2 separate regions of the Homo sapiens genome follow, and region 2 is linked to region 1. The links come from fine-mapping of genetic effects on gene expression. A gene starts in region 1. The other region holds a variant in brackets. All regions are shown on one strand. Distances are between the middles of the regions.

Region 1 (2,899 bases):
CTGAAGATTAGACCTCAGACCAACTCTTGTATCCTGCCTTTGCCCCACTCCACTGGTTCTATAAATAGCGACCATGTACCTACTAAATAGCGGGCCCCGCGGTGATTACCCTGTGATCCTTGTGATGCTTGAGTAGCTGACTTAGGGCATCCTCAGCACCGATGGGCTGGTGGTTTCCCCTGACTCGGGCCTCCTTGCAGTACCTCTTTTTACCACCAGGTGGGGCTCCTGTACGAAGAGGGTGTTCGCAAGGCCCAGAGCAGCGACTCCAGCAAGAGGACTTTCTCCGTGTACAGCAGCTCTCGGCAGCAGGGCCGCTACGCCCCCAGCTATACCCCCAGGTCTGGCTGGTCAGGGGAGCCCCAGGGGGAAGGGACAAAAGAGGGCGAGGGTGCAGGGCGGGCTCTGATTCCTTGTCTTCCCCAATCCAGTGCCCCGATGGACACCAACCTCTTGAGCAATATCCAGAAGCTATTCTCTGAACGTATTGATGTGTTCAGCCCTGTGGAGTTCAACAAGGTCCGACTTCCAACGTGACTCAGACTTCCAGGGATCCCGGGGAGGGTTGGCTGGAGCAGCCCCACACCTGCCCAAGGAGCCCCAGGACTCTGTGACCAACTGGGGGTGACCCTGACCCTCCAGTCTCTGTCTCTAGGGCTGTTTTTAGGTAGTACAGAGTGCCCTGCCTCCAAATCCCACAGCCCTTGTCCCAGTCTTGGTGTATGCCCAGCCTGAGTCTGGGTGCTGACCTGGGATTACTGTTTGCCCTTGTCCTTATCCCCACAGTAGTCTTGGGTCCTCCCCAGGGTTTTCTGTTCACCCATGGTCCCTGCCCCGCCTCACTCCAAGCTCAGGGATGCCTCTGATTGCTGGGCCCTACCTGTCCCCTGCCCTCCAGATGACGGCGCTAATATTGTATCCCTCCCTTCTTATCTGGCCCCGGAGACTTTCTGCCTCATCCCAGCTACTTCCATCGTATGTCTCCCGGGCCCCTGCTTGGAACTTGGGTGTCCCCCACACACACCTGCAGTCCCCAAGCTGCATCCCTGTGTCCCTGCCTGCAGGTGTCGGTGCTGACCGGCATCATCAAGATCAGCCTGAAGACGCTGCTGGAGTGTGTGCGGCTGCGCACCTTTGGGCGCTTCGGGCTGCAGCAGGTGCAAGTGGACTGCCACTTTCTGCAGCTCTACCTGTGGCGTTTTGTGGCCGACGAAGAACTCGTGCACTTGCTGCTGGACGAAGTGGTGGCCTCTGCTGCCCTGCGCTGCCCAGACCCTGTGCCCATGGAGCCCAGTGTGGTTGAGGTCATCTGCGAGCGCGGCTAGGCGCAGCCGCTGCCATGCACCGGTCTGTCCCTGCACCCCATGGCACCCAGGATCTGGTCTCGGTGGTCCTTCCCCGCAGGCAGGTGTCAGGACCGGCCTAATAAACATGTGTGGCCTCCTCCTCTCGCTTGCTGGGCGGGCCTTTCCGGGGGCGGGGTTTTGAAGCTGAGGCTTCTGAGGCGCCCGCGTCGGGTCCGCCCCCGAGCGCCGATTGGCTGGTGTGCTGGGCCCAGCATGGGCAGGGGGCGGTTCCACTTAAAAACCCTGGGACGAGAGCGGTCCTTGTCTGCGTTCCGTGTCCAGGCAGGTGCAGGCGCCGCGGGGCCGGATCCTCCGCGCGGCCGAGTCCATCTCCTGGGAAATGGGGCGGACAGTGTTTCCTTGACTGACTATTGTGAGCGCCCTCTCTCTCCGGCGGAGCGGAGACCATGGCCCCCACTCAGGGCCCCCGGGCCCCGCTGGAATTCGGAGGGCCCCTGGGTAATGGGGCAGAGAGATGGGACCTGGGGCAAAGGCTAAGCGAAGGAGAGCTGGAGCGGGTGAACTAAGAGCGGGGGCGAGATCTGAGGATGGAAGGCTTTGGGGGTGTCGGAGGCAGAGGGACCCGGGGGTTTGCAGCGAAGGGTGTCTGGAGAGGGAGAGCTGAGGAGGGGCCGGTTCTGGGGGCTGCAGAACGGGGATTTATGGTGTCGACTGGGAGCAGGAGGAGGGTCTTCGAGGGGCCTGGGGGCGGGGGACTAAGATGGACGCCTGGGAAGGGAACTGGGAGGCAGCGGGGTGCCTGGGGGCCGAGGGCTGAGGACGGGGTGCGGAGGCGCACTCTGGGAATGCCGAGAGGGTCCCGCAGAGACGTCAGGGCGCCCGTGCGGGCCGGCGGGGAGCTGGGGGGCTAGGGGCGGACGCCCGACGTGATGGCCCTTCCCGCAGGCGCCGCGGCTCTGCTACTGCTGCTGCCCGCCACCATGTTCCACCTGCTCCTGGCGGCCCGTTCGGGCCCCGCGCGCCTGCTGGGTCCACCCGCGTCCCTGCCGGGGCTGGAGGTGCTGTGGAGCCCACGGGCGCTGCTGCTGTGGCTCGCCTGGCTCGGCCTGCAGGCGGCGCTCTACCTACTGCCGGCGCGCAAGGTGCGGGCCCCGCTCGCGGACGCTCGGGGGAGGGAAGCGAATGGGCTCGGCGAGGGAAAGGACGCCCCGGGCCTTATCAGAGCCCCCTTGGACCCGCAGGTGGCCGAGGGGCAGGAATTGAAGGACAAGAGTCGCCTGCGCTATCCTATTAACGGTGCCTAGGGGACGGGCCCTCGCGCTGGAGTTAAGCGGCCGGGGGTGGAGCTCCAGGCCTAGCGGGGAGGTCCACGGAGATTGGCCCCCACCCCAGGCTCCTTTGTGTGCCTCTGTTACGCCCAGGACAGACGCCGGGGGCTCTCCCTATGCCCCTCGTCCCCACAGCCTTACCCCATTTACTGCTACTCCGTGCACCACAGCAGTGGCTGGGGTGATCCTCTGAAGGCCAGGGTGGCAGCCTAATGCTTGGGGCAGGGTCTGTGGCCCCCCTGAGTTTTGGGCTCTGCGTGTGTT
Region 2 (2,899 bases), 39 kb before region 1:
CTCCAAAATGCCTATCTAGAAGTGTTTTGGATTTCAGATTTCTTAGGATTTTGGAATATTAGCATTATCTGAAAATCCAGAATCCAAAATGCTACAGTGAATGTCAGGGCAGTGCTCACAGTTTGGGATTTTGGATTTTCTTTTCTTTTTTTTTTTTTTTGAGACAGAGTCTCGCTCTGTTGCCCAGGCTGGAGTGCAGTGGTGCAATCTTGGCTCACTGCAAGCTCTGCCTCCCAGGTTCACGCCATTCTCCTGCCTCAGCCTCCCGAGTAGCTGGGACTACAGGTGCCCGCCACCACACCCGGCTAATTTTTTGTATTTTTTAGTAGAGACGGGGTTTCACCGTGTTAGCCAGGATGGTCTCGATCTCCTGACCTCATGATCTGCCCGCCTTGGCCTCCCAAAGTGCTGAGATTATAGGTGTGAGCCACCGTGCTCGGCCGGGATTTTGGATTTTCAACCCACATATGCATACCCCATATGTGGCATGGAACATACTTGTACTAGAAAACTATCTATTATTTCTCTGATTTGGGAAACAGTTATTCCTTTTTTTTTTTTTTCCTGGGGACAGTCTCGCTTTGTTGCCCAGGCTGGAGTGTAGTGGTGCGATCTCGGATCACTGCAACCTCTGCCTTCCATGTTCAGGCAATTCTCCTGCCTCAGCCTCCTGAGTAGCTAATTTTTGTATTTTTAGTAGAGACGGGGTTTCACCATGTTGGTCAGGCTGGTCTCGAACCCCTAACCTGGTGATCCGCCTGCCTCGGCCTCCCAAAGTGCTGGGATTGCAGGCAAGGGCACTCTTACTCTTTAAAAATTGTGTTGTTTATCTAAGATTCAGGCTTAAGTGGGCATCTTGTATTTTTTGCTAAATCTAGCAACTCTAACACTATGGCCACATGTTGGTGCCCATCAGAGGACACTGGGAGGCATGAAAAGCTCCACGGTTACCAGTTGGTACGTGAGGAGGATGAGCAGATAGACAGACAGACAGGACTGGGGTCCTCTCAGGGTCCCACCAGCCAAGCACAGACAGATGCTTAATTCAGACTTGGACAGAAGATAGCTCAGGACCTGGATTTCAGTCCTGCTCTGCTGCTCATAGGTGGGGCAGCTGCAGGAAATCGGGCTCAGCCTCCTAGCCTGTGAAATGGGTATTCAACTCCACAAATATTGACTGAGCCCTAACTTTGTTGAAGGCCCTTCCCTGAATGTTGAGAAGGTACAAAAATGAATCTCCTCCTTTGAGGGGTTAATCACAGGCTGGGTAAAATGCTACTAGCCATCAGTGATGAGGAACTCTGCTGGCTGCTTTGCATATGACATCAACCTCCTGACCAACTCCGTTAGAGAGATGGAATTGGCCTCACTTTTCAGAAGAGAAAACCATGGCTCAAGAAGAGTCTCAGATGTGGGTGGACTGAT[A/C]CCCAAGCAGGTGGCTGTCAGGGAGCCTGCCAACCTGTCAGCCACACTGTGGAGAGGGGAAGGCAGCCTGGTCTAGGCCCATGTGTTGGGAGAACCACCAGGCCTGAGCCAAAGCCTCATCTGAAAGGGTGGTGAGCTACCGGGCTGAGGACCCAGGCGAGGAGGGAGGGGTCCATAGGCTGTGTGGGGAACTGCCCTGTGGAGAGGGAGGGTGAAGTCCACTCTCCAAGAAATGGGGACAGGTGTGAGCCATGGGGCTGGCTTCAGACCTCACATGCACACTGGTGGGACTAGAATTTGTGCTGTGGGAGGCTCATGACTGAGGCAGGGTGCCAGGTGCCATCACTCCTGACTCCACCTGTGCCCCTCCTACCAGGCACTCAGAGGCTCTCTGAAGCCCCTGTCCCCAGCTCCCACTGGAGGGGCACACCTGCCCAGGCTGGTGGGAAACCACCACATCCACTTACTCCATGATGTGCCTGGACACTGGGGGGACAGAGACAAATACAACCTTGCCTCCAGCCTGAGCTGGAGTTTACACAGCTACTGTGTAAACGTGTGTGCAGAGCAGACAGAATGGAGCTTGAAGGTGCTATGATGGAGGTCTGTGTGGACTTCTGAGACTTAAAAAGGGAGGGAATGGTCAGTTCTACTTGAAAATTGTTCATTGAGCACTTACCATGCACCAAGTGCTTTACTTGTATTATTTCATTCTTTTTTTTTTTTTTTTTTTTTTTGAGATGGAGTTTCTCTCTTTCACCCAGGCTGGAGTGAAGTGGCATGATCTTGGCTCACTGCAACCTCCACCCGCCAGGGTTCAAGTGATTCTCCTGCCTCAGCCTCCCGAGTAGCTGGGATTACAGGTGCCCGCCACCATGCCCGGCTAATTTTTGTATTTTTAGTAGAGACGAGGTTTCACCATCTTGGCCAGGCTGGTCTTGAACTCCTGACCTCAAGTAATCCAACCACCTCAGCCTCCCAAAGTGCTGGGATTACAGGTGTGAGCCACCGCGCCCGGCCGACTATCTCATTTTTAAACACTGTGGCATAGGTATTATTATTGTCCTCATTTTACTGTTAAGGAAACTGAGGCACATCAGAGTCTAATTATTATCATTTGCCTGGGATCACACAGCTAGAAGCTGGCAGAGCCAGGATTCAAACCCAGTTGGATTGCAGAACCTGTGCTCTTTGCTTTCACCAGGGTGGGGCAGGTGGGGAGGAAAGGCTGAGCAGGGGTGACGCGTGAGCCAGACTTAATGACGCGGGGCTCCCCAGGTGACGCAGGAGTGGGGAAAGACACGAGAGGCAGAGAGCAAAGGTTCAGAGGCAGGGACCTCCAAGCAGCTCGCAGCCTGCGGTGGGTCTGTGGGCTGAAGCCTGGACACCAGCCTCGGCCTGGAGTCCTCATGAGCCCCACTAAGGTGTCAGGAGCCCCCTAGACCAGCCAGGGTTCTGGGGTGCAAACAGGAAA

What was found. PIP is the estimated chance that this variant, and not a neighbour inherited with it, causes the effect.
Region 2: its variant is fine-mapped to the expression of TM7SF2 in whole blood (INTERVAL, PIP 0.93).

What each region holds. Positions count from the first base shown.
Region 1 is chr11:65,110,263-65,113,161 of GRCh38, forward strand. It overlaps TM7SF2 (transmembrane 7 superfamily member 2), which reads left to right and starts at 1,610. Exons shown (of 10, transcript NM_003273.6): 1 at 1,610-1,805; 2 at 2,253-2,449; 3 at 2,549-2,603. The coding sequence starts at 1,754. It overlaps VPS51 (VPS51 subunit of GARP complex), which reads left to right. Exons shown (of 10, transcript NM_013265.4): 8 at 220-341; 9 at 432-519; 10 at 1,065-1,600. The coding sequence ends at 1,325. RefSeq lists enhancers at 1-792, 793-1,718, 1,415-1,709, 1,632-1,741, 1,812-1,861 and silencers at 551-726, 1,992-2,421.
Region 2 is chr11:65,070,800-65,073,698 of GRCh38, forward strand. It overlaps a transcript of CDCA5 not described here. Among named protein-coding and RNA genes, the nearest start is that of CDCA5, 12 kb to the right of the region's middle. The variant A/C (reference allele first, on the strand shown) is at 1,426.